Linked DNA regions of Homo sapiens. The protein of the gene in region 4 purifies or fractionates together with the protein of the main gene of each other region. This does not show direct contact. Each region holds a gene or a part of one and is shown on either strand. Other genes may lie near its edges.

Region 1 (3,500 bases), on a different chromosome or scaffold from region 4:
CACTCCTCCAACTCTTTTCATTTGCTCTACAACTACTGAGGCACACACTGGTGTCATCAGAATATAAAGATGAATACAGGATATAAAGATGAACAAAACTTTGAACTATTCTAAAGATATATCCAGTTGGGTAGAGATAACAGATATAAGAAAGAATCCTATATATGATTAATGCTGCACCAGCAGCAAGCTCTCCATGCATTGACAGCCCAGGAAATGAGTGATTCTGTATGAGACATGATGACAAAAGGGAGGTGTCATGTCAGGCAGGTCTTCCTAGAGCTGGCCCTTGAAGGATAAACTGCCTTTTGATTAGTCAGGCAGGAATCCCTTTTTAATGAGTTAAATAAATGATTCTGGCTTCTTCCACTTGGATAGCAAGTAATAACAAAAGACTATTTACCTAATTAGATCTAAGCTTGCCACCATTTATTTTAGCTAACACTGATAAACTGATAAGCACTTTACTACCTGCCACTGCTTTTTTTGGGGGGATCAGGGTCTTGCTCTGTCGTCCAGGCTGAGGTGCAGTGGTGCAACCTTGGTTCACTGCAGCCTGAAGCTCCTGGGCTCAAGCAATCCTCTCACCTCAGCCTCCCAAGTAGCTGGGACCACAGGCATGCGCTGCCACACCTAGCTTTCCTTTTTTTTTTGGTATTTTATGTAGAGACTGGGTTTTGTCATGTTGCTCAGGCCGGTCTCGAACTCGTAAGCTCAAGCGATCTGCCTGCTTTGGCCTCCCAATGTGCTAGGATTACAGGCATGAGCCTCCACACCTGGCCTGTGCCACTGCTTTAAACTAGTTACATGCATCATTCATACTGTTGTGGTGGTAGGTACTATTATTATTCCCACTTGGAAGAATGGTGAAATTGAGGCACAGAATGTGTCAGGAACTTACCAAAGGTCATACAGTTAGTGCAAGTGGCAGAGTCAAGATTTAAAAAAACCCAGCAGCCAGACACTGAGCACATGCTTTTAATGTGGCAGTACAGTTTAACACAAATAATATCTATCTCAATGAACTGCTATAAGGGTTGAATGAGATAAGGTAAATACTTATAAGTTAATGTAAGACAGCATTACTTCTTGCTTTTTTTTTTTTTTTTTTTTGAGATGGAATTTCGCTCTTGTTGTCCAGGCTGGAGTGCAATGGTGGGATCTTGGCTCACTGCCACCTGCACCTCCCAAGTCCAAGTGATTCTCCTGCCTCAGCCTCCCAAGTAGCTGGGATTACAGGCATGAGCCACCACACCCGGCTAATTTTGTATTTTTAGCAGAGGAGGGGGTTTCAGCACATTGGTCAGGCTGGTTTCGAACTCCCGACCTCAAGCGACCCACCCACCTTGGCCTCCCGAAGTGCTGGGATAACAGGCGTGAGCCACCACGCCCGGCCACTTCTTGCTCTTTCATTTGTTAGGCTTTTGAGCGCTTTTCTATGGTTCAGGATGCCTCAATGAGCATGAAATTCCACGGTTTCATTTTTAAGGAAAGAAAGGAAACTGGCATTTATTGAGGACTTTCAATATGCCACAATCACTTTAAAGGTATTACTCTAATAACTGCCTTAACTATCTTGAAGGATTTTTACTTGTAAGACTCAAAGTAAATTATCATGCAGTATACAAAGGGGAGGTACTATTCAATTAATTCAATACTTAAAACCCAATTTCCATTACATTAAAAAAGGTATGTGGGAATAGAAGGTATAAAAATTAAAGGACTCCACCTCCATGGGAACCTGTCCTTTGTCATAATTAAGAATACCCTCTCCCATTCACTCATTCATGTTCATTCAGTAACATCTATGTGGGCCTACTATGAGAGTGGTATCTTGCTACTGGAATGTACGATCCCCATCTTAAAAGAGCTCAATAGTCTAGTTTCATAAAACATCTTAAGTCCTATAAAGAAATTCATATGCTATCTCAGCATCGTTTCTTGGACATGTGCAGAAATGCAGAGAATTTAGTTGGTACACACACCAACTTCCCATTACAAATTAAGTAGGCCAACTCACAAAGTCTTAGGTTGGTCCAATAAAGTGGCCACTAGCCACATGTGACTTAACGAGTCCTTTAAATGTGGCTAGTGTGACTGAGGAACTGTATTTTCATTTAATTTTAATTAACTTAAATTCTAAAAATTTATTCTTATCCATTACTGGAAAACTTGTAAGTAGGTCTGGAGCAACTTGAGTATATGAATCTACTTTTTCAAATGTAAATTTTATCATATCTAAATACAGATCAAGTATTTCCAATGAAAATTTAGCACCTGAATTGACACGTGCTTTCAGTGTAAAATATATACTGGATTTCAAACAATTTATATGTAAAATTTCTCAATTTTTAAAAATATTACTAGAAAAGTTAAAAGTATATTAAAATATTACTAGAAAAGTTAAAAGTATATACATAGCTTGTATTTTCTTTCCATTTGACAACACTGGCCTAAAGATGAAATATTCTTATAACTAGAGTATTCCTCTAAAGATTTTTTTTTTTTGAGACAGGGTCTTGCTTTGTTGCCCAGGCTGGAGTGCAGTGGCGTGATCTCGGTTCACCACAACCTCCGCCTCCCAGGTTCAAGCAATTCTCCCGCCTCAACCTCTCAAGTAGCTGGGACTACATGCACCTGCCACCATGCCTGGCTAATTTTGTATTTTTAGTAGAGATGGGGTTTCTCCATGTTGGTCAGGCTGCAGATTCTTACAATGATTTGAGAATTCCTCAAAACTCCTGAGCTTCAACAACTGACTTCAAAGATTGCTCCAGGGCAAGTTGGAGAAGCCTTACCTGTATTTGCCTGTGCTGTGCTTTAGTGTTAGTTCTATTACTACAGGTTAAGTACCTTCCGGTACCAAGCATTTGATTTCAGATATTTTCAAATTTTGGAATATTTGCATATACATAATGAGATAGCTTGGGAATAGGACCCAAGTCCAAACACAAAATTCATTTGTGTTTCATATACACTTTATACCCATAGCCTGAAAATTATTTTATATGATATTTTAAATAATTCTATGTGTGAAAGTTTTGTCTGCATTTTGACTTGTCGCATGAGGTGAGATGTAGAATTTTCCATATGTTGGTGTTCAAAAAGTTTGGGATTTTAGAGAATTTTGGATTTTTAGATTAGGGATGCTCCACCTGTACATGAAAATAGCAACAGAAAAGTTGTGAAACCATTTTAAAATAAACACTAATTACATTTACAAGCTATTTTCTGAAAGCAAGCCAAGATAGAAACAAGGGTAGGAAATTCATCCTTGCTTTCCTGTGAGAAGGCAAACAGAAATAACAACCTATGAAGTAATGTAAAAATGTTCAAAGGAGTAAACAATCTTCCTTTGATGTGATCCAAAAGCACAAACACAATGACAAATGACCTTCCAGGTGTAGAATGAACTTAAGTTTCTATCTTTCAAGCACTCATCTATGCCGTGCTGCAACAGACGTTCTCAGTCTTTTCACACCTTCAATTAGAGATTACTT
Region 2 (3,500 bases), on a different chromosome or scaffold from region 4:
AAGGATGAGCACGTGGTGCAGAGGACAGAAAATACCTGCACACACACAGAAAAGGACACAGCCAGTGTTGAAACCTCTCTCTAGCCACGGTAGCCAGAAGACTTGACTCATTCCCAAGTGAGAGACCTTGTCGTGTATCTAATTTACACGTGCCTAAATTGCTGTTTGATAAAACTGCTCAGAATTTACTCATACTGTAATTTTTATTTAAACTTTGGTTGTTTTCTAAAGCCCCAGTGTGTTCATTTGCTAGGGATCCCATAACAAAATATCACAGGCTGGGCAGCTTAAACGATGGAATTCATTTTCATACGGTTCTGGAGGCTGGAAGTCCAAGGCCAAGACTTGTCCTGAGATTTGTCCTGAGACCTCTTTCCTTAACTTGGGGATAGCTGCCTTCTTGCTGTGTCCCCAGGCGGCCTTTTCTCTGCTGTCCCTTCCTCTTATGAGGACACCAGTCTTATTGGACCAGGGCCCCCTCTTAATGGCCTCATTTTGACATGATTGCCTCTTTAAAGGCCCTGTCTCTAAATGCAGTCACATTTTAAAGTACTGGGGATTAGGACTTCAACATATGAATTTGGAAGTTGGCGGGCAGGGAGTGTCACAATTCAGCTCATAACATCCAGGTCAAAGAAACCTCTTAAAGTGATACAGCCCACATATAACCTGACCTGGGTGTACCCAACTGAGCGTTCATCATTTTGCTATCAAAGCAAAGTCTGTCTGCCCTTGACTGAGCCTTCTAGGCTGGCAAATTCTGCAGCTAAATGTTGCATAATTGGTGCTTGAACAAGAACTAGTCTAAACATTATTGCCTACCCACTAAAGTTTTCGCACACATTAAAAATAGTGTAAAAGGTCCACATTGATAAGGATTAAAAGAACCATTAAAAATGTCCTTTCCATATTGTACTTAGATGAAGGCTTAATTCTTTTGGTTAGCAATTTAAATACTAGTTATATATTTTAAACTTAAAAAGAAAATATTATGGCGTGGCACTGTGTCACGCACCTGTAGTCTCAGCTACTTGGGAGGCTGAGGAAGGAAAATCGCTTGAGTCCAGGCATTCAAGGCTGTAGTGTACTTTGATCATGCGTATGAATAGCCATTGTGCTCCATTCTGGGCAACACAGTGAGACTCGGTCTCTTAAAAAAATTAGGGCAGAGGGAGAAGGTGGTGTCTGAAGAACAGATAGTCACTCTCTAATACGTGTAACAAAATATAGAGGTGTGGGAGAGGGAGCTGGGAACCCAGACCAACTCAAGCCTTAGGTTCAAAGCGAAAGAAGTACATGTTTTAAAGCTCAATTCATGAGAGTCCCACTGACTTTTAGCTCTTCTCTAATTCCCACTTTCCAGTGTCAGCTACTATAGTGTACTGCCTGTTGAGTCACACTAAGGACAGTGCTTCCAGGAGACAATAGGGTTTTTTTCTAAGCCCATTCCACTTCCTGCCTGAAAGGAGACAGGAAGATAAAGCCAGCTTCACAGACTGTAAATTCCAACCTTTGTACCTGAAGTTGGTCCTCTTACCTATCTACAGGAATAATGCAAGATCTTTGCCAAAGCTAAGAGGAGGGTGTTTTATCATGATGCGTTTAGTCCTTTCCTTGACAAATGTCAATGATAGCCAGAGATTAGGTCTCACAAATTCCCCCACGGGACCAGAGTTTAGATCTGGGAGGAGGAACCCAGGACATACACTCTTTCTAGCAAAGCCTGTTCTTGCTCTTTTTAGTGCCTCTGGCTAAAGCATTCTCTTTTTAAATCATTTGAGGTGGCCAAGAAGAGACAGGATCCTGAACAGAAGTGGCAAAAAAACAGACAGGAAGAGGCTTGTATTAGTTTGTTTTCACAGTGCTATAAAGAAATACCAGAGACTGGGTAATTTAGGAAGGAAAGAGGTTTAATTGGCTTACGGTTCCACAGGCTGTACAGGAAGCATGGCTGGGGAGGCCTCGGGAAACTTACAATCATGATGTAAGGTGAAGAGGAAGCAAGCACATAAGCAAGCACATCTTACATGGTCAGAGCAGGAGGAAGAGAGAGAGGGGGAGGTGAACTTTTAAACAACCAGATCTCTCGATAACTCACTATCACGAGAACAGCACCAAAGGGGAAATATGTCCCCATGATTTAATCACCTCCCACCAGGCCCCACCTCCAACACTGAGGATTACAATGTCACATGAGATTTGGGTAGGGACACAGAGCCAAACCATATCAGAGGCAGTCACTCGTTCCACTGTGACAAGATGGAAAAAGGGTAGATGTAGGTATTAGTAAGTGTGATGGTTTGGTAGCCAGAAGGTTTGTGGCTTTTGATTTTGCAAAAGTGAAATCTGTTGAGAGGAAGGGGAGACGTAGTAGATAGATACCATGGTTTGAGGAGAGTGGAAAAGGTTTTTTGTTTTGTTTTGTTTTGTTTTGTTTAATTTCAATAGCTTTTGGGCGAACAGGTGTTTTGTTACATGAATAAGTTCTTTCTTTAATGGTGATTTATCAGATTTTGGTGTACTCATCACCCGAGCAGTGTACATGGTACCCAATGTGTAGTCTTTTATTCCTCATCCCCCTCACACCCTTTCTTCTCTGAGTCCCCAAAGTCTATTGTATCATTCTTATGCCTTTGCATCCTCATAGCTCAGCTCCCACTTATGAATGAGAACATACGATGTTTGGTTTTTCATTCCTGACTTACTTCACTTAGAATAATAGTCTCCAATTCCATCCAAGTTGCTGTGAATGCCATTATTTTGTTCCTTTTTATGGCTGAGTAGTATTCCATAGTCTATATATATACCATCATTTCTTTATCCACTAGTTGATTGATGGGCATTTGTGTTGGCTCCATATTTTTGCAATTGCAAATTGTGCTACTATAAACGTGTGTGCAGGTATCTTTTTCATGTAATGACTTCTTTGCCTCTGGGTAGATACCCAGTAGTGGGATTGCTGGATTAAATGGTATTCTACTTTTAGTTCTTTAAAGAATCTCCACACTGTTTTCCATAGTGGTTGTACTAGTTTACATTCCTGAGAGTGGAAAAGGTTTAAAACACTCATTGCAGAGAAATGGGAAGAGAGCTGACTGGGGAAAGATGGTTCCATGGTTCACTGAAACCCCAGTGAGATGAGTAACTTTGAGTTTATAAGGACAACCCTCTCCCCAGGTGGGGGATTTTCTCCAGTAGTGCTTGATGGTACACGGGTAGCCATGGAGAAGATAGTTTTTTAAATAAGCTTTTTTATTTTGGAATAATTTTAGATTTATAGACAAGTTATAAAGACAGTACAGAGTTCTCAAGACCCCTCATCCGGATCCCCCTGGTAATCTTCTGACATCATCATAGTACATTTGTCAAAACTGTCTCTGTCTTTCATGACCTTTACAGTTTTGGGGAGGACTGGTCAGGTTCCTTGTAGAATGTCCCTCAGTCTGGGATTGTTTGATGTTTCTCCTCACAATTAAACTGGGATTATGGGCTATTAGGAA
Region 3 (3,500 bases), on a different chromosome or scaffold from region 4:
AAATCTACAGCAAAGAACCAGCTCAGATCCTCCCAGGATGAGTCACAAAATGATATCCTGGGGGTTACAAGAGTCTGACTCCTAAATTTCCTTCTTGGATTTAGTGCAGCTGATTTCACTTTATGGTGGTGTTTGTAATTTTTTTAATACAAGCTTTGAAACACCCTTCCTTCTAAATCACAGATCAGCCCTACAGCCTTACCTTCCTGCTAGAGGAAGAAAGCTGGAGATTGCTGAAATGCGTCATGTTAAGACACCCCCAGACCTCCCCTCGAGTAGAGTGCAAAACCCACTCAACCAGGATTCCAGGTATGGAGGCTGCTCTAGTGGGGTGAAGGTGCTCTAGTGGGGTGAAGGTGACAATCCTGGGTGGGAGCTCCCCTCGGCTGCCCCCTCCCAGTTGGGGTGCTCGGCCCACAGGGAGCAGAAGGAGGGAGTTGGCTTTTTATCAGTCTGCAGCTTTCCTTTAAGTCACCAAGCGCCTCCAACATTCAAAGCTGTGTGCCTGCCACACATAAAAGAGATTCTAATCACTACACCTTCAAGGAGAGGGCAAGGAGACCTTGGCCTCTCTGGTGTTGCCAGGGTGGGGCCTGCTTGGGTATGGGTGTGGTCTGGGACACAGGCATAGGGACTATAGAGTGAGAGGCTTTGCAGGTATGCAGGTAGGATGCACAGCCTCCAGCATTGCCCACAGCTGCCTGGCCTGCTTGCTTGTAAATGAAACACATACACATACACATACACACACACACACACACTTGTAAATGAAACACATACACACACACACACACACACACACACAGCCTCCAGCACTGCCCACAGCTGCCTGGGCTGCTTGCTTGTAAATGAAACACATACACATACACATATATACACACACACACACACACACACACACACAGCCTCCAGCACTGCCCACAGCTGCCTGGCCTGCTTGCTTGTAAATGAAACACATACGCATACACACACGTGCACACACACACAGCCTCCAGCACTGCCCACAGCTGCCTGGCCTGCTTGCTTGTAAATGAAACACATACACATATACAGGCGCGCGCGCACACACACACACACACACACACACGGCCTCCAGCACTGCTCACAGCTGCCTGGCCTGCTTGCTTGTAAATGACACACATACACATACACGTGCGTGCTCACACACGTGCGTGCTCACACACACACACACACAGCCTCCAGCACTGCTCACAGCTGCCTGGCCTGCTTGCTTGTAAATGAAACACATACACATACACACACACACGCGCACACAGCCTCCAGCACTGCTCACAGTTGCCTGGCCTGCTTGCTTGTAAATGGAACACATACACATACATACACACACATGCACACGCACACACAGAGCCTCCAGCACTGCCCACTGCTGCCCGGCCTGCTTGCTTGTACATGAAACATATACACATACACAGATGCGCACGCACACAGACACATATACAGCCTCCAGCACTGCTCACTGCTGCCCGGCCTGCTTGCTTGTATATGAAACATATATACATACAGATGTGCACACACACACATGCACACACACACATTCGCACAGACACACACACCGCCAGCCTCCAGCACTGCCCACTGCTGCCCAGCCTGCTTGTTTGTATATGAAACATATGCATACACATACACAGATGTGCATGCACACACATATGCACACACGCACACACACATGGCCTCCAGCATGGGGCCACTCAGTACCTTCCTTGCACTCCAGGGCCACACGGGACTCCAGGTTGTCCATCTGCATCTGCAGCCGCTTCAGCGTGAGGTCACTTTCGCGGGACTTGCGTTTATAGGCAATGAGCACGGCCACGATGAAAATGATGAGGAGGCCGCCAGCCACTGCGATGCTGACGATGGCGGGCAGGCTGAGCGGGCTGTCCGGGGCAATGTACACCATCCCCGGGGAGTACTCCATGCCACCGACACGGGCCTGGGGGCACACAGGGCAAGAGGGAGCTGGGTGTGGGGACGCAGCAGCTTTGGCAACAGTCCCAAGTTACCCATGAACTAGTGACCAGGGCAGGATGACGGAAAGGAGACCAATCACTGGTGTCAAAATAGACAAGAGGGCATGGGGGGCTGGGAGCGGGGACAGGCACAGCTTAACAGAGCTCACCCCCAACTGGAAAAACCTCACCTCCTCTTATTCAGGAGCGAGTTTTGTCATCTTCATAAGAAAACAGCACACAACTGGGACCTAAACACAGTCTGCCACAAATGACTGGCTCCCCTAAGATTTATGCCCAATCTAAGGGTGGACAACTGAAGCACAGAACATGATATTAAGATATTACGGAATTCCCTGGGCCAGCAACAGCCTTCTCCTTGAAGGCTTTGTTTGTTGCAGGTGATTTAGCAACTATTTAATGCTGTTTTGCATTTTCCTTATTGTTGCACCAGCCAGTGTGGAAAGAATGACAATACAGAAGAGAGAAGCTCAAAAGTGAACATGAAGAAAGAACTTGGGGTGTGGGGTAGCTACAGGAAAAGTTCTTTGTGGGACAGAATCCCCTCTTGGAAAGCCTTGGTGGCCTGAGCTCACATCTGCATCCCTACTGCCCGCTCCATCCAGGATGGGGTTCTGCCAGCCTCACCATCACTTTGTGCCTGCCGATGAGGTTGGGGGACTCGCAGAGCAGCTGGACATCTGACACGGTCACGGTGCACGGCTTCTCCCCAACCAGCACAGTGTAGTTCAGCTTCACGTTGCCCCCAGCCACAGGCGGGATCAGGTTCTTGCCCTGTACAAATGGGAAAGCACCAGTTCCCACCCCAGAGTGAGGACCACAGCTACCAGCTGGCTCTCATGTCCTCCCACCTGGAGGTCCCATCCCGCTGGTGAGCTGGTGAAGAAGCCACCTTTGGTAATAAGTGCAAAAAATATTCATGGCATGACTACCACCATTGCCTCTTCCTCCCAGTGGCTAATCAGTTATCAAAGTACTCCTTTCAGCTTATCCCAAATGCAGCCTCAGAATCCTTCTCAATGCAGAGTTGGAGTCAGTCACTACCAATTGATTCAAATTGTCATAAGCTTTAATTAACCTGTAACCCATGTTCCAAAGGAAGCCCTATGCTGTGGTTCGCACAAGGCTGCCTCAGAGGAAGCAGTGAGCCTGACCTGCCAGTACTTGGACTTTCAGGACAATAAAAGCTTGAGAGTCAAATAGCCAAGGTGGATCTGCCTTCCCTGGGTAGAACCGGCCCCTAAAGAGAGTTTTCTTCCCAGTACAGACTCAGAGAGAACATTTATCACACTCTGGGCTACACTGCAACCTCTGCAAGAGATGCTGGTTGAGAAATGTGGCAGGAGTCTGTGACTTGAACACCCCCTTCCATGCAGCAGCCCCTTCTTTTCCCACCCCCGCCTCCCACCACCCTCACTCCACCTTTAGGATGATGGGCGTGCCAGGCTTGAGCTCCAGGATTCCTGAGGGACCAAAGGCCTCAAACACCGGGTTGGGATAGTAGGTGAAGTT
Region 4 (2,662 bases):
AGCTCCCGCACAAGTGTGGTCTCTTGCCCGTCCCATTTCTGCAGGTGAACAAGTTTCCCTCCATCCAGTGTCACAATGGACTGTGGAAAGAGGGTAGAGGCCTGAGCTGTGATCTTAGTCAGGAATTGAGGGGCAGGGTGGGGTCTGGACACTGGGCCACAGAGCACACAGCCTTTGACCCAAACTAGTGATGGTGTGAGGACAAGAGCTCAGGCAATCCGCCTCCCAGCTATCCCTGCAAGACATCTAGTTCACCTCCAGCCTCTGCTCCACTACTGCCTTTCTGGGGAAGAGGCCTTCAGATATTAGGCAAGGAGGGAGAGGCAGGCAGTATGGTGGAGCCAGAGAGCCTGGCTCTGAGAAGTACCACAAGCCTTCAAGACAGACACTTATCTGTACTCTAGGTGATTCCCGTAGCCTGGTCCCCTCAGATACAGGTGGGATTTACTAGTCTATCCCTGGGAAAGACTGACTGAGGAGGAGGAGTAGTCCTGAGAATCTTTATCCAGCCTTGTGGTTAGTCCACATAATGTCTAAAAGACCCTTAGTGATAGGAAGTATTGGATAATTAGACTTCCTGCCCTGTATTCCTACACCTTTTCTTGGTCCACATCATGTGACCTCTTTAGCCAACAAGAGGGCAGCAACCACAAAGTCCTGTGACTGGATGCCCTTGAAGTGGTTCCTCAGCTCTGGGTGCTGCCAGCATACATACATCAGCTGGTTCTCATTTGGCAGCTCTTCCAGCTCTCTTTCCTAGGAGTTTGGGGGCCACAAGGCCAGGCTAAGGGATCCTGATGAGCAAGGTGGTTCAGTAGGAGAATCTGAGAAGGTTCTGTGTATTGTTTAGGTGATAAGGGGTATGAGGCCTGTCTCTTAGTGTGCTCTTTTTTATCCTTACCTTACTCCTTGTTCTCATTCCCCTAGTTTTTTTTGCCTACTCAGAGTAGATATTTTTGCCCTAGGCATTCCACAGGGCTATTGTGTTTAATTGGGGTTCTTGCCCCTTGAGAAAGTAGGCAAGTCCAAGGAGGTATGAGCAGGTGGTGGGGCAGCCACCTTTATCCAAGGTAGACTGCCATCTTTGGGCACCATCCCCAGCTCTGCTGCCAGCCACCTGTGTGATCCTGTTCTTTCTGGGGACAGCTATGAGGAAGAGGAAACAGCTGATGGGGCTGAATGATAGTGTCATGATAGAACACTGCTATAGGGACACCCTATAGAGGTCAAAGCCCTTAAGTTCTCTCGCTCCCATGCCTGGCCTGGAAGGCTGAGGCAAGCTGCCAAGACAGCCACTGCAGGGTGATAGAACCCTGGGAGGAGGGGCTAAGGCTTGGTGGGAAGACACTGCAAACACATTCATGACAAGGTGAATGCCCTATCACGGAACATAGCTCTTCCTGCCTGTCAGCTGGCAACACTGGAAATAGTTTGTCAGGGTCATTGGCCATGTCTGGGAGTTAGAAGTTGAAGCGGCATCTGAGTAGGTGCTTCTAGTTCCTGGCTGCCTTTTTTGCTGCTGGAGGTCACAATGACCTCACTCAGTGGAGGGCCCTGACTTCTGGGCATCATTCCTAAAGCACTTCAGGTCACAGCCATGGCCACATAACTCTGCCATCTATGGAAGGGGAAAGAAACCTAGAGCTACTGCATACCTTGCACAGGGTCACCCAGCTGGAGCTGGAGTAGATACTGAGGTCAGAAGAACATCCTGGCTCTGTGCTGCCCATTCCGAGGCAGACAATAGATGAATCCCAAGAAGGGAGGGAAGAAAACAAGAGGACAGAACTGACATGTATTTAGCATCAGTGGCATTCCAGCACTACACAGGCTTTATGAATCTTGTTTCATTTAAATTCCCCATGATAGTCTGCCCCTCAGGGTGCAATACCAGGGAGCCAAGACTACCAGCCTATTCTCTTTTAGAGTCTCAGCACTCTCCATTCCCCACCCCTGTTTCCCTGACTTACCTTGACCTTCCTGTCATCTGCTGTTGTCTCATCGAACTCCACCCCCAACTTAAAGCTGATCTCTGTGTTCTTGAAGGTGCTGTGTGTTTTTAGGGTGAGAATGTCCCCATTCTTTTCGATGATTGTGGTAGGCTTGGTCATGCTGGCCACCTGCCTGGTAGCAAAACCCACACCTGAGGGTAGGGGGAAGGTTATGAGTATATGAGCTGGGGTAGAGAAGCAGTGTACAAGAAACTCAATGAATAACTCTCAGGCCTGGGTATGGGGAAGTGGAGGACTGTATCTTTCAAAGCCTTTGCATGGGAATTTTAAAATTCAGTCTTGCGCTTAGTTCTGTTTGGTGAACACAGATAACTGATCCCATTAGATGAGAGATACTTAAGGAACAGCAGTGCCATAGCAAGTCAGTGGCAGAGCTGGGATTAGAATAAGCTACTATTGGGCCAAGTGTGGTGGCTCACGCCTGTAATCACACTTTGGGAGGCCAAGGCAGGCGGATCACATGAGGCCAGGAGTTTAAGACCAGCCTGGCCAATATGGTGAAACCCGTCTCTACTAAAAATACAAAAAATTAGCCAGATGTGGTGGTATGTGCCTGTAATCCCAGCTACTCAGGAGGCTGAGGCTGAGAATTGCTTGAACCTAGGAGGTGGAGGTTGCAGTGAGTCGAGATTGTGCCACTGCACTCCAGC
Region 5 (4,011 bases), 7.5 Mb from region 4:
CTTTCTTAGAGACTAAGGCGATGAGCCATTGAATTTCATGACGTCAACAGGCTAAGTTGGAAGGTCCCTGCAACTTGAATCTCCCTCCAACAGGGATGTTCAGCCTCTGCTAGTATATCACCCTAAAACTATCTCACTGGAACATAAGTTTCATGAGACAGGGACTTTGTTTTATTCAATGCTGTATTTCTAAGGCCCTGGGACATAATAGGGGCTCGATAAATAACAGTTGAGTGTTGCTGAAATAATCTAAAACCTGCTTCAGGCCAAGCGTGGTGGCTCACGCCTGTAATCCCAGCACTTTGGGAGGCCGAGGTGGGCAGATCACCTGAGGTCAGAAGTTCGAGACCAGCCTAGCCAACATGGTGAAGCCCTATCTCTACTAAAAACACATAAATTAGCTAGGCATGGCAGCAGGTGCCTGCAATCCCAGCTACTCGGGAGGCTGAGGCAGGAGAATTGCTTGAACCCAGGAGGAGGAGGTTGCAGTGAGCTGAGATCGTGCCATTGTACTCCAGCCTGGGGTACAAGAGCGAGACTTCTTCATCTCAAAAAAAAAAAAAAAAAAAAAAGCTTCTAAAACCTGCTTCCAAGCTGCTTTTATTAGAACATTATAAACTCAATTCCACTTCCTTCCTTCCCCGTAACAGCTCTTCACATAATAATTCAGTTTTTAAACACTTAATATTTGCCAGGCACATACAAGAGCCATTTACATATTTATTTATTTATTTATTTATTTGAGATACAGTCTCATTCTGTCTCCAGGCTGGAGAGCAGTGGCGCGATCTTGGCTCACTGCAACCTTCACCTCCCAGGTTCAAGTGATTCTCCTGCCTCAGCCTCCCGAGTAGCTGGGACTACAGGTGCGCACCACCACACCTGGCTAATTTTTTGTATTTTAGTAGAGACAGGATTTCACCAGGTTGGCCAGGCTGGTCCCGAACTCCCGACCTCAAGTGATCCACCCACCTCAGCCTCCCAAAGTGCTAGGATTATAGGCATGAGCCACCACGCCTGGTGAGCCATTTACATATTAACCCATACTGTCCTCTCAACAATCTTATCAGGTAGGAACTATCATCATCCCCATTTTACTGTAAGAAATCTAAGGCCCCACTTGGGAGGCTGAGGCAGAAGAATCGCTTGAACCTGGGAGGCAGAGGTTGCAGTGAGCTGAGATTGAGCCACTGCACTCCAGTCTGGGTGACAGATGACAGAGCAAGACACCGTCTCAGGAAAAAAAAAAAGAAAGAAAAGAAAAGAAATCTGAGACCCAAAGAGATTAAGTAATCTTCCCGAGGTGACATGGGGAGTTACTCACTGAGGCAATATCTAAACCTGGCAGTGTGGCTCTAGAGCACAAGCTCCTAACCTCTGGGCCACTGTTGCCTCTTTACCACCGTTCGTTCGGTCCACAGTCTTCTCCTGGTTAAACATCCCGTTCCTCCTCTGTAAAGCTCTGCTCAGAGAGGGTCCCCCTAACCACACAAGTACTGTGCCACAGTGTCCTGAGGTATGGTGTACCTGCATCAACACCAACAGCGAATACTGACTAAACCCAGTGTTAAACTACAGGCCAGGGACTATTATTATCCCAACTCCGTAGGTGAAGAAACTAAGCCTCAGAAAGGTTACCCAAAAATCACAATTAGAAAGTGACAGAGCTTGGACTTGAACCCATATCTAGGCCTAATACTAATACTGGTTCCTATGCTTGGAACCCCATGGAGGGCCATCTCATTACACCAAATATTTCTTAAAAGCTTATTAATATCTACTATTGCGTTTAACTTTCCAAGTTGGAATTGCCATCTTCATTTTACACATGAGCAGGTGGTGCAGGTGAATGGCCAAGTAAAGATATTAACGTGGCTTTCTGAGAGGGACCCAGTGCCAGGAGTGTATTTTTCCCTCTATACAGTTATAACTCCTTCTCAACTCCCTAAGGTAAAAATACCACCACCGACTGATCACTTATTAGGAGCCAGAACACTGCCAGATGTGTTACTTACATTTTCTCTAATTTCCAAAACAACCCCAAGGGAATGTTGTCCGTTTTACAGACGAAAGAGCTGAGGTTTAGAGAAAGTAAATAACTATGTCATTAAGTCTAGAAAGTGGCAGAACTATTGGGACACCCTAGCTTCAGCTTTTATTTTTTCTGCTCCATACAGCTACGTCTCCCACACTTTTTCTGCGCTGAGAATGGGAGAGGGGAAAACATCAGGATCGAACAGGATCAAAGTGCAATTCCAAGGGAATCACAGCTTGGCTCCAATCAACGCAAGTCCCGCTCGGTAGGCTGGGATAGTTCCCCAAGCATCTCTAAAAGCAACAACAGTTGGAAATGGAGACGAAGGAAATGGAAGCGTGTTCTTGATTTTCACTAATGAAGAGTTGGAGAGGTCTGAAGTTCAATTAGAGGGAGAAAGGGGCCAGGGTCATCGGAAAGGGCCCTGGGCGGGGAATCAGGGCACCTAGGATGGCGTCCCAGGTCTCCATGACCCAGACAAGTCACTCCACCTCTCCGGACCTCAGTTTTCCCATCCCCTTCAAAGGATTTGAGGGGAAAAGGGAGGGTCCAGGACTCCAACGCCCTCCCGACTCTGGCCTGAGAGCTGTCCGGCCTCGCCTCTAAGAGAGCAGTCACCACGGGCCAAGCCCCCAACCCTGACAGTCAGAGTGCCTGCAGGGCCGCCGCCTCGGCGGCTCGGGGCACTTACAGCCCGGAGGGACGCCAAGCCCACCAGTCGCCGCGGAAGCGCCTTCCTCATTGCTGCCATCTTGGCCCAGAATCCCCCGCGGCAGTCCAGCTGGGCCCCGCGTGACCGATGGCTCGTCTGGTGGGCGCGGCCCCGCCCCCGCCCCTCCGCCGTGACTTCCGAAGCTGGCTCCACCCCCAGCCTCTCTCCGTTTTGATTCCGAGCGCCTCTTCCATGCCAGGCCAAGTGAGACGCTAGGAATATAAAGATGAACAGAATCAGCCTGGACACCATGTAATCCTAGCACTTTGGGAGACCGAGGCGGGTAGATCACCTGAGGTCAGGAATTCGAGACCAGCCTGGCTAACATGGCGAAACCCCCGTCTCTCCAAAAAATCCAAAAAAAAAAAAAAAAAAAAAAAAAAAAAAAAAAAGCCGGGCGTGGTGGTGGGCGCCTGTAATCCCAGCTACTTGGGAAGCTGAGGCAGGAGAATTGTTTGAACCCGGGAGGCGAGGTTGCAGCGAGCGGAGATCGTGCCACTGCACTCCAGCCTGGGCGACACAGTGAGAGCCTGTCCAAAACAAAAAACCCAAAACCAAACAAACAAAAACATGAAAAGAAATTAACCAAATTCTGTGGCTTCTTGTGTTTAGAGTGTGGGAGGTGTGAGGAGACACATATTAATAGTTACACAAACAGTTGTGTCATTTCTAACTTGCACTATAAGAAGCAACGATTTGCTACTCACTGTTCCGAGTTCTTAGCACGGATTAACTCACGCATCACGATCTTCAGGATTCAAACACAGGCAGGCAGCTCCAGAGAGGGGGCATCCTTAGATTTCATACCTTAAAAAAATGATTAAGATTTATCTAGGTGTACTTTCTGAAGGGCTGAAAAAAAAAAAAATCTATCCAGGTGAAGAGGATACAAGAAAAACTTTCCAGACGGTGTAGCATTCGCAATGGCCCTGAGGCAAAGAAAATGCTGAGAACACTGTTTTTCTCTCTTTTGTTTTGTTGGTTTGTTTTGTTTGTTTGAGATGGAGTCTCACTCTGTCACCCAGGTTGGAGTGCAGTGGCGCGATTTCGGCTCACTGCAACCTCCGCCTCCCGAGTTCAAGAGAGTCTCGTGCCTCAGTCTCCCGAGTAGCTGGGATTACAGGTGTGCACCACCACGCCTGGCTAATTTTAGTGTTTTTAGTAGAAACGAGGTTTCACCGTGTTGGCCAGGCTGGTCTCAAATTCCTGACCTCAGGTGATCCGCCCGCCTTGGCCTCCCAAAATGCTGGGATTACAGGCGAGA
Region 6 (3,500 bases), about 23 Mb from region 4:
GCAGGTATTCAGTACAGTAGTGTCCCCTTATCCACGGTTTTGCTTTCCACAGATTCAGTTACCAGTGGTCAACCATGGTCTGAAAATATTAAATGAAAAATTCCAGAAATAAACAACCTGTAAGTTTTAAATTATGCACTGAGTAGCAGATGATGAAATCACGGGCTCTGCTCTTTGGCCAGCACATCCACGCTGTAGATGATACCCACCTGTGAGTTAGCACCCATCTCAATGATCAGATTGACTGTCATGGTATCACAGTCCCTGTATTAAGTAACACTCATTTTACTTAATAAGGACCCCAAAGCACAAGAGTACTGATGCTGGCAATTCGGATATGCCAAATAGAAGCTATAAACTACCTCCTTTAAGTAAAAAGGTGAAATTTCTCAACTTAATTAGAAGAAAAATTGTATGCTGAGGTTGCTAAGATCTATGGTAAGAGCAACCTTCTATCTGTGAAATTACAAAGAAGGAAAAAGAAATTCATGCTAGTTTTGCTGTTGCTGATGTACCTCAAACTGCAAAAATTATGGCCACAGTGTGTGATAAGTGCTTTAGCTAAGATAGAAAAGGCATTATATTTGTGGGTGGAAGACACAAACAGAAATGTGTTCTGACTGATGGCAATCAGGTTTGGAACTATTTGAGATTTCAAGCATCCACTGTGGATCCTGGAATACATCTGCTTCAGGTAAGTGGAGACAACTGTATATGTTACTGAGACCAACACATGCACATGAGAGAGCTGACTGAACTGGGGTGGCCTGACTCCAGAGCCTGGTCTCCTCTGTCACACTGCTTTACCAAAGTAGAAAGAAAATGAACAAATTCCTTCAGGTAAAGCATCCCAAGAAAGGTTCCCAACAAGCTTCACAGGATTAGTGGATTTAGCAGGACCATAAAAACCTAAGGTTTAAGAACTCACCTTGATGGCCTGGAGTAAAGCCTCATTCTGATTCCTCTCCTTCTTTTCTTTCAAGTTGGCTTTCCTCACATCCCTCTGTTCAATTCGCTAAAAATGAAATTTAGATGCATCAGCTCTAGAGACCTGGCTTCCTCTTCTATTGCACTAGCCTGCTCCTAAATTATTATCTCTGGCCTCTATCCAACCCAAGCTCCTGTGTTAAGGAATACCAGTGGCCAGATTCAGTTCAATAAACATTTACAAAGTACATGCCTAGATGTCAGACCCAGTGGCAGCAGCAGTTTAAATTTACTTCCTGTATGTACCCAAGGAACTCACAGTCTACTGAGGGGTTGAGGGGTACAGACAAGTAAAGAGCCAGTATAACAGGTGGATTATGTACTACTCTGGTCGTGTGATCCGAGTGCTACGAAACATAGCCTGGGTGACAGAAACCCTGTCTCTATAGATTTTTTTTAAAAAGTATAACCACCCTAGTGGGTATGCAATGGTATCTTACTATGGTTTTGATTTGCATTTCCTAATTATTAATGATGTTGAACATCTTTTCATGTGCTTTTTGGCCATTTGTGTGTCTTTGGAGAAGTGTCTATTCACATCCTTTCCTCATTTAAAAAACTGAGTTACCTGTCTTATTGAGATGATAAGAGTTGTTTATATGTTGTAGATAAAAGTCCCTTATGACTTACCAATATTGTCTTCCATTCTGTGGGCTTTTTCACTTTTTTTTTTTTTTTTTTTTTTGTAGAGATGAGGTCTCACTTTGTTGCCCAGGTTGGTCTCGAATTCCTGGCCTCAAGTGGTCCTCCTGCCCTGGCCTCCCAAAATGCTAGGATTACAGGTGTGAGCCACTGCATCTGGCCCCTTTTCACTTTTTTCTTCACATTTATCTTTTCATTTTTTTGATGGTATCCTTTGAAGCAAAAAGTTTTTACTTTTGATGAAGTGCAATCAATCTACTTTTCCTTTTGTTGCTTGTGCTTTGTGTCATATCCAAGTTCATGAAGATTCATATCTATGTTTTCTTTTAAGAGTTGTATAGTCTTAGCTCTTACATTTGGGTATTTGATCTACTTTGGGTAACTTTTTTATATAGTATGAGGTAAAGTTCTAGCTTCATTCTCCCACATGTGAATATCCAGTTGTCCCACTATCCTTTGTTGAAAAGATTACCTCCCTATTGAATGGTCTTGGCACACTTGTTGAAAATAAATTCCCCATAAATGTGAGGGCTTATTTCTGAGCTCTAAATTTTATTACATTGACCTATATGTCTATTGTTATGCCAGTACCACAATGCCTTGATTACTGTAGCTCTGTCGTATGTTTTGAAATTGGGAAGTGTGAGTCTTCCAATTTTGTTTTTTTTTTTTTTTTGTCTTTCATGATTGTTGGTCATTCAGAGTCCCTTGAATTTCTATGTGAATATTATGATCAGCCTGTCCATTTCTGCAGAGAAGCCAATTGGACTTTTGATACAGATTGCACTGAAATTAGCCAGATGTGGCATCACATGCCTATAGTCCCAGTTGCTTGGGAGACTGAGGCAGGAGGGCTGCTTGAGCCCAGGAGTTTGAGGTTGCAGCGAGCCATGATCATACCACTGCACTCCAGCCTGAATATTAGAGCAAGTTCATGTCTCAAAAAAGAAAATTACACTGAATTGATACACTAATTTTGGGAGTATTGCCATCTAACAATATTAAGATCTAATCTATGAACATGGGATGTCTTCCTATTTACTTAGGTCTTCTTTAATTTCTTTCAACAATGTTTTTTGTATTTTTAGAGTATAAGTTTTAGCTACTTTTGTTAAATGTACTCATAAGTGTTTTTTGATGCTATTTAAAATGGAATTGTTTTCTTAAGTTCATTTTCAGAGTGTTCATTAAAAATCTATAGAATACAAATGATTTTTGTGTACTGGTGATGTTGTTTCCAACAAGCTTGCTGAACTTAGTTCCAAGAGTTTTTTAGTGGATCCCTTAGGATTTTCTATATACACGGTCAAGTTGTCTGCATATAGATGGTTTTACTACTACTTCTCTTCCACTCTTTCATTTTTGAAGAATAGATTTGCTAGATATAGAATTCTTACAGTCTTTTTCTTTTAGCTCTTTGAATATGTCATTTACCTGCCTTTTGGCCTTCATGGCTTCTGATGAGAAAGCTGTTAATTTTCCTTAGGATTTTTTGTACATAAAGAGTCATTTTTCTCTTGCTGCTTTTAAGGTTCTCTTCTTTGTTTTTCAACAGTTTAATTATAATGTGTTTAGGTAGAGATCACTTTAAGTTTATCCCACTTATAGTTTGTTAAACTTTTTGGATGTATACATCAGTGTTTTTCACCAAATTTGGGAAGTTTATGGCCAATATTTCCCCAAGTATTCTTTTGCCCATTCTCTCTCTTCTCTCCTTCTAGGACCCCCACTATGCCTTTGTTGGTATGCTTGATGGCATCATACAAGTCTCTCTTCATCCTTATTCTTTTCTCATTCTGTTCTTCAGACTGGATAATCTCAACTGATACATCTTAAGTGTGATGATTCTCATTACTGCCTGCTCAAATGCG
Region 7 (3,500 bases), on a different chromosome or scaffold from region 4:
TGAATACATTAAACAGCAAACTATGGCAGTGCAGAACTGGCTGCCAAATGGTACAGCAGAGATATCAAGGCTGAGAAAGTAAGTTCACTTTCAACTGTGCTGGGTGAAGGAGAACTTCATGGAGAGATGAGGCTGTGGTCAGGGTTTGCAGCCAGGATGGGTGGGATTTAGTTCGGATTTATGGCGATGCTTCATCACCAAAGCAGCAAAACAGCAAGACGCCAGCCTTGCCTGGGGTCCACCAGACAAAGATTAGCATCCGCAAACCAATGAAACCACCTGCAGTAAGCAACATGCAAATCTAAACACAGACTGCTCCACAGGAAAACTGACCTGTCAGAGTCTTGAATCTACATGTGCTTACCCAGAAAAAATGAAAAAAAAAAAAAAAGAGAAAAAAAGAAAAAAAGAAAGAGGAGGGGAAAAAGTGAGGAGACTAAACCAACAAATGCACACGCAGCACATGCCCTGGGGACAAGTGAGTATATTTAATACAGAGAGGACACGCGAAGCTAGCCAGAAATTCTTCATTGTCTGAGGTCTGACCATGACATCTGGACTCCTTTTATGCAGAGATGCATGTTGAAGTGTCATGGCTGATGCGACAGAACATCTGCAACTCACGCTTTTTTTTTTTTTTTTTGAGACAAGGTCTCGCTCTGTCTCCCAGGCTGGTGTGCAGTGGGACAATCATGGTTCACTGCAGCCTCGAATTTCCTGGGCTCAATCTATCCTCTCACCTCGGCCTCCTGAGTAGCTGAGACTACAGGAGCACGCCACCATGCCTAGCTAATTTTTATATTTTATTTTTGTAGAGAAGGGGTCTCTCCATGTTGCCCAGGCTGGTCCTGAACTCCTGGACTCAAGTGATCCACCTGCCTCTGCCTCCCAAAGTGCTGGGATTATAGGTATCAGCCACCACGCCCAGCCCTGCAACTCACTTTTTTATTTTTATTTTTTGAGACAGTCTGGCAATGTCACCCAGGCTGGAGTACAATGGTGTGATCTCGGCTCACTGCAAACTATGCCTCCTGGGTGCAAGCAATTCTCATGCCTCAGCCTCCAGAATAGCTGGGACCACAGGCGCGCGATACCAGGCCTGGCTGATTTTTTGTCATCTTAGTAGAAAGAAGGTTTTAACATGTTACCCAGGCTGGTCTCAAATTCTTGGCCTCAAGTGATCCACCCGCTTCCACCTCCCAAAGTACTGGGATTACAGGCATCAGCCACCATGCCTGGCCCTGCAACTTTTTGTTTTTTGTGCAGGGGAGGGTGGGTGGACGGAGTCTTGCTCTGTCACCAGGCTGGAGTGCAATGGTGTGATCTCGGCTCACTGCAACCTCTGACTCCCGCAACTCACTCGTAATGGCCTGTGAAAAAACGATAGCCAAACAGACGGGGGTGACCTGGGCTGACTTTTAATAAGAAGAGAGCAGGTCTCTGGAGGTACTGTGTTTGTCCCCAACTTTTTGTTAGGAAAATACCTAAACAAAGATGAAATAACACCACAATGAACACCTGTACACCTACCACCTAGATTCCACGACTGTTACCAAGACTAGCTGTCCAGACGTTCCCCTCTCCCTGGAAAAGATATTTAGAACTAATTCAACCATTTCGCAAAGAGACACAATATTGTAGAAAACCCCACAACAGCTTTGCTGTTGGAATCCTAGCAAGACAGAAGTAAATTTTAGTATGTTCCTACAGCTGATAAATACATCCAGTTTCTCCAAATCCCAGTAATGTTTTAGTTTTAAGAACATAAACCGGCTGGGCACAGTGGCTCACGCCTGTAATCCCAGCACTTTGGGAGGCTGAGGCAGGTGGATCACAAGGTCAGGAGTTTGAGACCAGCTTGGCCAACATGGTGAAACCTTATCTCTACTAAAAATACCAAAACAAAAAAAATGTAGCCGGGCATGGTGGCACGCACCTTGTAGTCCCAGCTATTCAGGAGGCTGAGACGGGAGAATCGCTTGAACCAGGGAGGCAGAGGTTGCAGTGAGCTGAGATAGCACCACTGCACTCCAGCCTGGGTGACAGAGTAAAACTCTGTCTCAAAAAAAAAAAAAGAAAAAAAAAAAAAGAACATAAACCCTACCTTTTGCCGTTGAATAAGCGTTCCCACGAGCAATGATTCCTTCAATGAAAGAAATTATCTGAGGAATATTTTCGGTTACCCTCAGGTACACCGTGGGTGGGAGAACCTGCAAGGAAGTGGAGACGTGACCGTGTTTCCCTCGTGAGAAGCACAGGTCAGCCAGCACCAGCTGTCATTGCTCACGCCTGTCACCCTCATGGCAGGAACAACCAGCCCCACACTTTACCTTCAGGGCTGCCATGTCCTGCTTGAAGTCTTCCTCATAAAGACTGGCGAGGGAAGCGGGGGAAATATTCATCTGCAGAAGGATTAGATGTGCACGTTAATGAGTCTGGGGCATTCGCAACAGAACCACCCAGCCACAAGAAAGCCCACGTGCACAACACGACAGCAAACATACCCCGGCCACCTCCGGTGCCTCGGCCTCAGTTTGCCCCCACCCACTCACCAAAGCGGGGGCACTCATTTTAGGTACTGAACTTTTACTAGTAGCTTAGCTAGAAAAAAAGGCTTATTGACCTTGTCTTCTGGTTAGAGAAGAAATAATGTCACAATTTCCATTATATAGTAAAAAACAAACCAGCTGGGTGCAGCGGCTCACGCCTGTAATCCCAACACTTTGGGAGGCCAAGATGAGTGGATCGTTTGAGACCATGAGGTTGAAGCTGCGAACAGCCATGATCGTGCCACTGCAATCCCATCCTTGGCAACAGGACGAGACACCATCTCCGAAACAAAAATAAAAATAAAGTAAAATAGAAAACAAAACATACCAAGGATCCTCCACTTTTCTAAGACAAGGGCAAAATCACCCTAGTCCAGTCTGTATGATAAGAAACTAGGTTCCTATCTTATCCCTTAATCCTCAGGAGAAAAAAAAAATAGTCAAAAATATACTAAAGAGGAGGCTGGGTGTTGTGGGTCATAGCTATAAATCCCAGCACTTTGGGAGACTAAGGCAGGTGGATGACATGAGGCCGGGAGTTTGAGACCAGCCTGGCCAACACGGTGAAACCCCGTCTCTACTTAAAATACAAAAGTTAGCCAGGCATGGTGGTGCACACCTGTAATCCCAGAGACTCAGGTGGCTGAGGCAGGAGAATCACTTGAACTCAGGAGGCGGAGGTTGCAGTCAGCCAAGAAGGTGCCACTGCACTCCAGCCTGGGCGACAGAGCAAGACTCTCTTCCAAAACAAACAAAAAAGAAAGATCAAAAAGGAACTTCTAAAGAAATATTTTGAAAGTAATTTAACACACTACAACTGGGATTTAATGGAGTACTCATTCCCTCGGGTCCCATGGCTGGGTTTCTGGAGATAGACCATCAAAACAGTCCAATCAATTCCAAATGTGGGGGCCTTGGGGGCACGCATCTGCAGCCCCTGCCACATTATCC

The links.
Region 1: the proteins of FABP3 (region 4) and DSTN fractionate together in Homo sapiens (co-fractionation; one large-scale study listed by BioGRID). This does not show direct contact.
Region 2: the proteins of FABP3 (region 4) and MSRB2 fractionate together in Homo sapiens (co-fractionation; one large-scale study listed by BioGRID). This does not show direct contact.
Region 3: the proteins of FABP3 (region 4) and PLXNA4 purify together in Homo sapiens (co-immunoprecipitation; one large-scale study listed by IntAct). This does not show direct contact.
Region 5: the proteins of FABP3 (region 4) and HMGCL fractionate together in Homo sapiens (co-fractionation; one large-scale study listed by BioGRID). This does not show direct contact.
Region 6: the proteins of FABP3 (region 4) and TTC4 purify together in Homo sapiens (co-immunoprecipitation; one large-scale study listed by IntAct). This does not show direct contact.
Region 7: the proteins of FABP3 (region 4) and CARS2 fractionate together in Homo sapiens (co-fractionation; one large-scale study listed by BioGRID). This does not show direct contact.

Annotation. Positions count from the first base shown.
Region 1 is NC_000020.11:17,576,575-17,580,074, reverse strand, and holds part of DSTN (destrin), read right to left. Parts: intron 1-3,500. UniProt on the Homo sapiens protein: Actin-depolymerizing protein. Severs actin filaments (F-actin) and binds to actin monomers (G-actin). Acts in a pH-independent manner.
Region 2 is NC_000010.11:23,098,579-23,102,078, forward strand, and holds part of MSRB2 (methionine-R-sulfoxide reductase B2, mitochondrial precursor), read left to right. Parts: intron 1-3,500. UniProt on the Homo sapiens protein: Methionine-sulfoxide reductase that specifically reduces methionine (R)-sulfoxide back to methionine.
Region 3 is NC_000007.14:132,177,971-132,181,470, forward strand, and holds part of PLXNA4 (plexin-A4 isoform 1 precursor), read right to left. Parts: coding exon 3,411-3,500; intron 2,763-3,410; coding exon 2,616-2,762; intron 1,952-2,615; coding exon 1,717-1,951; intron 1-1,716. UniProt on the Homo sapiens protein: Coreceptor for SEMA3A. Necessary for signaling by class 3 semaphorins and subsequent remodeling of the cytoskeleton. Plays a role in axon guidance in the developing nervous system. Class 3 semaphorins bind to a complex composed of a neuropilin and a plexin.
Region 4 is NC_000001.11:31,367,415-31,370,076, forward strand, and holds part of FABP3 (fatty acid-binding protein, heart), read right to left. Parts: intron 2,177-2,662; coding exon of another isoform or gene 2,144-2,176; coding exon 1,971-2,143; intron 81-1,970; coding exon 1-80. UniProt on the Homo sapiens protein: FABPs are thought to play a role in the intracellular transport of long-chain fatty acids and their acyl-CoA esters.
Region 5 is NC_000001.11:23,822,630-23,826,640, forward strand, and holds the start of HMGCL (hydroxymethylglutaryl-CoA lyase, mitochondrial isoform 1 precursor), read right to left. Parts: upstream 2,801-4,011; 5' UTR 2,787-2,800; coding exon 2,727-2,786; intron 1-2,726. UniProt on the Homo sapiens protein: Mitochondrial 3-hydroxy-3-methylglutaryl-CoA lyase that catalyzes a cation-dependent cleavage of (S)-3-hydroxy-3-methylglutaryl-CoA into acetyl-CoA and acetoacetate, a key step in ketogenesis. Terminal step in leucine catabolism.
Region 6 is NC_000001.11:54,725,861-54,729,360, reverse strand, and holds part of TTC4 (tetratricopeptide repeat protein 4), read right to left. Parts: intron 1,016-3,500; coding exon 929-1,015; intron 1-928.
Region 7 is NC_000013.11:110,685,617-110,689,116, forward strand, and holds part of CARS2 (probable cysteine--tRNA ligase, mitochondrial), read right to left. Parts: intron 2,403-3,500; coding exon 2,331-2,402; intron 2,211-2,330; coding exon 2,105-2,210; intron 1-2,104. UniProt on the Homo sapiens protein: Mitochondrial cysteine-specific aminoacyl-tRNA synthetase that catalyzes the ATP-dependent ligation of cysteine to tRNA(Cys). In addition to its role as an aminoacyl-tRNA synthetase, has also cysteine persulfide synthase activity.